2 linked regions of the Homo sapiens genome follow. The protein of the gene in region 1 interacts with the protein of each later gene in a pairwise test. Each region holds a gene or a part of one and is shown on either strand. Other genes may lie near its edges.

The links. The genes of interacting proteins can lie anywhere in the genome.
Region 2: the proteins of ATP13A2 (region 1) and NRXN1 interact in a two-hybrid assay, tested with the Homo sapiens proteins (one large-scale study listed by BioGRID).

The regions. Positions count from the first base shown.
Region 1 is NC_000001.11:16,987,929-16,991,428, reverse strand, and holds part of ATP13A2 (polyamine-transporting ATPase 13A2), read left to right. Parts: intron 1-1,141; coding exon 1,142-1,302; intron 1,303-1,425; coding exon 1,426-1,542; intron 1,543-1,658; coding exon 1,659-1,738; intron 1,739-2,954; coding exon 2,955-3,107; intron 3,108-3,194; coding exon 3,195-3,291; intron 3,292-3,500. UniProt on the Homo sapiens protein: ATPase which acts as a lysosomal polyamine exporter with high affinity for spermine. Also stimulates cellular uptake of polyamines and protects against polyamine toxicity.
Region 2 is NC_000002.12:50,546,133-50,549,632, forward strand, and holds part of NRXN1 (neurexin-1 isoform alpha4 precursor), read right to left. Parts: intron 1-3,500.

The DNA of each region.
Region 1 (3,500 bases):
TCAGAGGCTGTGACAAGCTCAAGGAGCAGGAAGAGAAAGATTCTGGCCGGGCACGGTACTTCATGCCTGTAATCCCAGCACTTTGGGAGGCCAAAGGAGAAGGATGTCTTGAACCCTGGAGTTCAAGACCAACCTGGGCAACATGGCAAAACTCCGTCTCTACAAAGAATACGAAAATGGCCGGGCACAGTGTCTCACGCCTGTAATCCCAGCACTTTGGGAGGCCGACGCGGGCGGATCACTTGAGGTCAGGAGTTCGAGACCAACCTGGCCAACATAGTGAAACCCCGTCTCTACTAAAAATACAAAAAATTAGCCAGGTATGGTGGTGGATGCCTGTAATCCCAGCTACTCGGGAGGCTGAGGCAGGAGAATCACTTCAACCCGGGAGGTGGAGGTTGCAGTGAGCTGAGATCACGCCATTTCACTCCAGCCTGGGCAACAGAGAGAGACCCAGTCTCAAAAAAAAAAAGATTCTAGCTAGGGTGAGACAGCAGGAGCTAAGAGGTCTGTGTCCTTGTCCTCCCCGCCCCTGCACACACACATATGTGCACACACATTCATGGGCACTTGGCAGCAGAGTCACACAGCAGTAAGGAGTATATGTAGCCTGGGCACATGGCTCGTGCCTGTAATCCCAGCACTCCGGGAGGCCGAGGCAGGGGGATCACCTGAGGCCAGGAGTTCAAGACCAGACTGGCCAACATGGTGAAACCCCATCTCTACTAAAAATGCAAAAAAAATTAGCCTGGTGTGGTCGCACCCTCCTGTAATCCCAGCTACTCAAGAGGCTGAGGCAGGAGAATTGCTTGAGCCCAGGAGGAAGGAGGTTGCAGTGAGCCGAGATCAAGCCACTGCACTCCAGCCTGGGCCACAGAGAGAGACTCTTGTCTTAAAAAAAGAAAAAAAAGGAGTATATGTGGAGCTCCAGCCCACGGCTCCAGGTTCTCCTAAGACCCTTCAATGCCTGGATCTACAGATGAGAAAACTGAGGCAAAGGGATGTTGGTAACCTGCCTCAGCTCACTTGGCTGGTGGTGGCAGACGGATTTCATCCAGCCTGTTTTCCCATCTGTAAGGATCAGGATGAGGATGGCCTCCCCGGATAGCCTCAGACCCTCACCTTGCCCCATAACCCCCAGGGGACAACCTGCAGACAGCGGTGACTGTGGCCCGGGGCTGTGGCATGGTGGCCCCCCAGGAGCATCTGATCATCGTCCACGCCACCCACCCTGAGCGGGGTCAGCCTGCCTCTCTCGAGTTCCTGCCGATGGAGTCCCCCACAGCCGTGAATGGCGTTAAGGTGAGGCTAACCCAGAGTTCCAGCTGTACCTCACCCAGTGACCCCACCCCTGTGTCACCTGACCCAGGCCCCAACTCTCCAGGGTGGGCAGGGGGAGCTAAGCTGAGCTTCCTGGGCCCCCAGGATCCTGACCAGGCTGCAAGCTACACCGTGGAGCCAGACCCCCGATCCAGGCACCTGGCCCTCAGCGGGCCCACCTTTGGTATCATTGTGAAGCACTTCCCCAAGCTGCTGCCCAAGGTAGGGCCGCCCCCAGCTCCCTGGCCGCCCTGCGCCTCCCCTGCTCTGTCTCCTTCCTCACGGCTCGCTCTCCCTGGTGGGTGCCTCAGCCCTCCCCCATCTCCCTGTGCTCCCAGGTCCTGGTCCAGGGCACTGTCTTTGCCCGCATGGCCCCTGAGCAGAAGACAGAGCTGGTGTGCGAGCTACAGAAGCTTCAGTGAGTGCTCGGCAGAGGGTGTGGGCAAGGGCCTGCGGAGACTGAGCTTGTCCGTTCGTCTGTTCATCTGTCCTTCCCCAGGGCCCTGTCTCCCTCCTCAGGCACCAGAGAGCTGTCACCCCTCCTCACCAAAAGCAGGCAGGCTCTCCCAGGTCTTTCATGCTAAAAATAATAATTGTAGGCTGGGTGCGGTGGCTCATTCCTGTAATCCCACCTCTTTGAGTGGCCGAGGTGGGAGGATCACTTGAGCCCAGGAGTTTGAGGCCAGCCTGGGCAACAAAGTGAGACCCCATCTCTTATTAAAAATTTAAAAATTAGCCAGGTGTGGTGACACACCGGTCATCCCAGCTACTCAAGAGGCTGAGGCAGGAGGGTTGCTTGAGCCTGGGAGGCTGCGGCTGCAGTGAGCCATGATCACACCACTGCACTTCAGCCTGGGCAACAGAGCGAGACTCCGTCTCAAAAAATAGTAATAGGCCAGGCGCGGTGGCTCATGCCAGTAATCCCAGCGCTTTGGGAGGCTGAGGCAGGCAGATCACCTGAGGTCAGGAGTTCAAGACCAGCCTGGCCAACATGGTGAAACCCTGTCTCTACTAAAAATACAAAAATTAGTTGGGCATGGTGGCGCACACCAGTAATCCCAGCTACTCAAGAGGCTGAGGGCACTTGGGCAGCAGAGGAGGTTGTAGTGAGCAGAGATCACGCCACTGCACTCTAGCCTGGGCAACAGAGGGAGACTCTGTCTCAAAAAATAATAGGCCGGGCACGGTGGCTCATGCCTGTAATCCCAGCACTTTGGGAGGCCGAGGCGGGTGGATCACCTGAGATCAGGAGTTTAAGACCAGCCTGGCCAACATGGTGAAACCCCATCTCTACTAAAAATACAAAAAATTAGCCAGGCGTGGTGGCGGGCGTCTGTAATCCCAGCTACTTGGGAGGCTGAAGCAGGAGAATCACTTGAGCCCAGGAGGCAGAGGTTGCAGTGAGCTGAGATCATGCCATTACACTCCAGCCTGGGCAACAAGAGTGAAACTCCGTCTCAAAAAATAATAATAATAATGATAATAATAATAATAATTGCATCTATTCACTGAGCGCCTCCTGTACACCAGGCACCATGTGGCATTAGGGGCCCAGCTGTCATCATATTCTGCCAGCCCACCCATGGGGTGGTGGGGTAATTCCCCAGGCCACACCTGTCCACACCTCTCTTCAGGTACTGCGTGGGCATGTGCGGAGACGGCGCCAATGACTGTGGGGCCCTGAAGGCGGCTGATGTCGGCATCTCGCTGTCCCAGGCAGAAGCCTCAGTGGTCTCACCCTTCACCTCGAGCATGGCCAGTATTGAGTGCGTGCCCATGGTCATCAGGTAAGGCAGGCAGGGACCGGTGGGTGAGGGCTCAGCAGGGCTGGTCAGCCAACCTGGGTCCCCTAATGTCCGTGCCCTGCCACCCAGGGAGGGGCGCTGTTCCCTTGACACTTCGTTCAGCGTCTTCAAGTACATGGCTCTGTACAGCCTGACCCAGTTCATCTCCGTCCTGATCCTCTACACGGTGAGTATCTGCAGAGCTCCGTACCCAGAGCCGTCCCAGGACTAGGGAGGGGACACAGCCCTGTGCCTTGGAGCTGGCAGGTCCCAGAATAGATGACGTGGGCCCAGATCCTGACCCTGCCACTCTCCGGCTGTGTGGTTGGAGAGGTGGCAAGGCTTGGGGGAGATGAGAAAAACACCAGGCACGGAGCCTGGTACCCACTAGGTCCT
Region 2 (3,500 bases), on another chromosome or scaffold:
TGGGAACTAAATCTTAATCAAAAGAGTGCATGGGGAACATGGATTCTGAACAAGAAGAATGCATGAGATAAGGAAATGTATAGTAATATTGGCCTGGGAAGGCTTGACACCCTTATCTCAGTTAAATGACCTGCCTCCATCTTTACAGTGGGGATGAAGTTGTCAAGTTCGCTAAGCAGTGTTCAGAAGATTACTGCTAATATTTGCCCCTGTGAGTTTCTTTTCTTTAGATATGTTAATACATTTAAGTTCTACAAGCCCAGGGGCCTAGCTCAGGTACTTCTGAAAAGCTCTGCTCTGAATCTTTGCTTATGATTCCATAATTCCCAGAAAATAAATTTTGCTACTTAGATGATCTTGAGCAAAAGAGTACATAACACCATATTAAACAGATAGCCTGAAAAATTATGTTTATACTCTAACTGCAACTATATAAAATATATATAATGTTAACAAAAACTGAAGGAAAATGTACAAATATAAAAAATACTTTGAGTGTGGAGAAACAATAAATGATTTTTTTCTATAAACTTCTTCAGAATAAATAAATATAAACATTTTAATAAAACTTAACATTACAATTTTAAGCAAAATTGACCCCATCTGGTCATATGATCAAAGAACTAGTAAATTATTGGTAAGGTATTTCGGTGTTTCCTCTGATGAATAGTGGTTTATGGGTGTGGATATGAAACAAAATATAAATGCACTTAAAATTACTTCAATGTATATAACAGGCTACTAGGCAGAGGCATGGGAGGAACATTTACAGTCAGAGGGCAAGTTCAAACAAGACCTAAGCAGAGAAATTGTCTAATGGTTGCTCAAGTAGAAATGTTTAAGTGTGGTGATTCATGAATGGTGTACACAGAAATCAGTGCTGGTAATAGATAGCTAGAAAGTGCTGTTCACATCAAACAGTGATTACTATAAACCTCTAATTATGTGCTCTTGAGAGAGCCTTGTACCTTTCCCACTGTAATATCTAGTTCTTAAACTGGAACTCTACGACTTCAATTCAAATCTCAATGGCTTCTTAGCTGTTAAATGTAGGCTTACCCATGAATAACCGCTGACACAATCAGCTGTACCCTGCTGTATACAAGCCAACTTTGACAAGAATAATGAGTTTTCTCTTTGATTTCAATGTGTAATGATGGTTTACAAAATAAATAAATAAATAAATAAAATAAGACTGGCAGTTTGCTATAAAAATACTTGAGAGGGTACTTTGACTGAGCCAGAGTTTAACACAAATTTAAACAATATTTGTGCCCCAAGAAAACAATCATTAACCTCATCCTAATTGTAGCTCCATTCACAGTTTAGCTAAATACCTGGGCAGCTGTTTTGTGTTGAGGGTGGGACCAGAGAAGAGGCAAAGGGGAAGTCTGGAAAGAGAGAGACTGGTTTAAAAACAACAACAACAACAAAAACGCTCAGCTGTAAGTCCTGCAAAAATTGCAAAGTAATGGGCCTCTTCAATCATATTTATTAAGTCCACTGACTTAGGGGTTTTGCCCTGTTAGTAGCTAAGTTATCCACAGAGGTTATTTACATTTTGCAGCACTGAAGTCATCCACTCTGATTCACTAAATCATGCCTGCACTTGGTATGGTTTCTCCTTTGCTAGCTTACTGCAGGATCTGGAAGTGCCATTTACGGCTCAGCCCACTTGGCTTTCCATGTCCCTGACCCTTTAGTGAGCAGGCAGTGGAAGAAAGCTGCACTGCACATAAAGAACAGCTATAGCCAAGCAGAATTAGTCAAACTGTGGAAATTAGAGTGAATTTTCCCCATGTCTCAGATTGGAAGAAGGAACATATGTTAGAAATAACCAGTTACAATCAGTTTTGCCAAAATGAGAAAGTTTTAGAAAATTACACATAAAGGTGTTATTTCTCATTGAATAAGGGGTTCATATACCCCTTTCAGTGAACTAAAGACCAAAGAACCAAAGGGAAGGCCACCAAAAAGATGGACATCCTAGGTTCTTGTCAAGAGCACACTTACTGTGGTTGCATATCCCAGTCCTCAGAAAGGAGTTACCACCTTCCTTCTTGATGGATTTTCCTGCTCCCTAAATGTCTGCAAAATGATATAGGGACCTCAAGACCAAGAAGGGACAGAAGTCCTGTTCTCATAAAAACTTGTCATTTTTGTACCAGGTTTACACATTCGCTAACAATTATTTAACTTTCTCAGTGGCTTATTTCAAACATCTGGGCTTGGAGGATGGTGTTGCATTCACAAGAGAACACCAGTTTTTATCCTATATCATATAAACTGCTTTCAGAAAGTAATGTAATTTAAATAAATGCTTACAGTTAAAAAAGTTGCATTTACAATTAAAAGAGTGCCATTATTCTCCAAATGTAAAAAATGATGCTGCTAATTTATTTTATTTTATTTTTTTTTAGAGTATCAGGGGTTGTTTGGCACTGTACTACTTACATGTTTTTAATCTTTAGTTTTTCTTATACCAAATATATACTGAACAACTGCTATACCCAGGAATGTACTAGAAACTGTGGATAAAAAAATAAATACAATTTTCTCTATCTGGGATGGAAATTATGAACCTTATAAAGTGGGTAATATTAAAATTAAATCATTTGTGTCCACCAAATATGATTTTAACCCTCTCTCTATCCAAAAATAACCACTACTTAGATTGGCAGCAAATTAATGACCATAATGGTCTCATTATATTTCTATTTACTTTAGTATGGCCAACAGCAGAAAGAATTGCTCTTAGGCGTGGGTTCCCTCTACTTTAATAACAGAGATAATAAGGCTTTTAAAATACTGAGCTAAGGAATATTCCAGGCAAATCAACAGATATGGCCTCATTATCTGTATGTCAGAAAGGAGCCCATGTTACCCTCTTGTCATAGCAGTACACTTTCTCCACATTATATGAAAAATAATATTCATATAGCCCCTGAATATAACTGATATAAAAAATGGGTAAAATAAATTATTTCATGAAATTTCCATGTTTCTTAGTTGTAAGTGACCTCTGAATCTTACTGTTTCACCAGCCAAATCAGAAATATCCTTTAAGTAAAATAAAAGCAAGTATAGCCATTCATTCAATTTTTAAAAGGCTACTCCATACCAAACCAATGCAGTGTGCAAATATGGAACTTAATTAAAATACTATATATAAAATATTAACAGCTGCTATTAAAATTACATTAAACACCCTTGAGCTAGGCTAACCTAATATGAGCTCTATTTTTTTTCAATTTAATAAAGGACAGAACTTGGCTTAGTGAATGAACTTTGGTTTTTATATTGTTTGTACCAATTCACTAATCTGAAATTTTAATCACATAAAAGTACTTTACCATCACAACAGCACCAAGCATAGTAATCTGATCTTTCCACTGGATTCAAAGAAAAATCTCATGCTTCGTTTATTTTCTTTCTTAGATGCAAACAACACTTCCTTAGAACGTGTTTCTGTTCTTCCCATACAGAATTGAGCTTTGTAA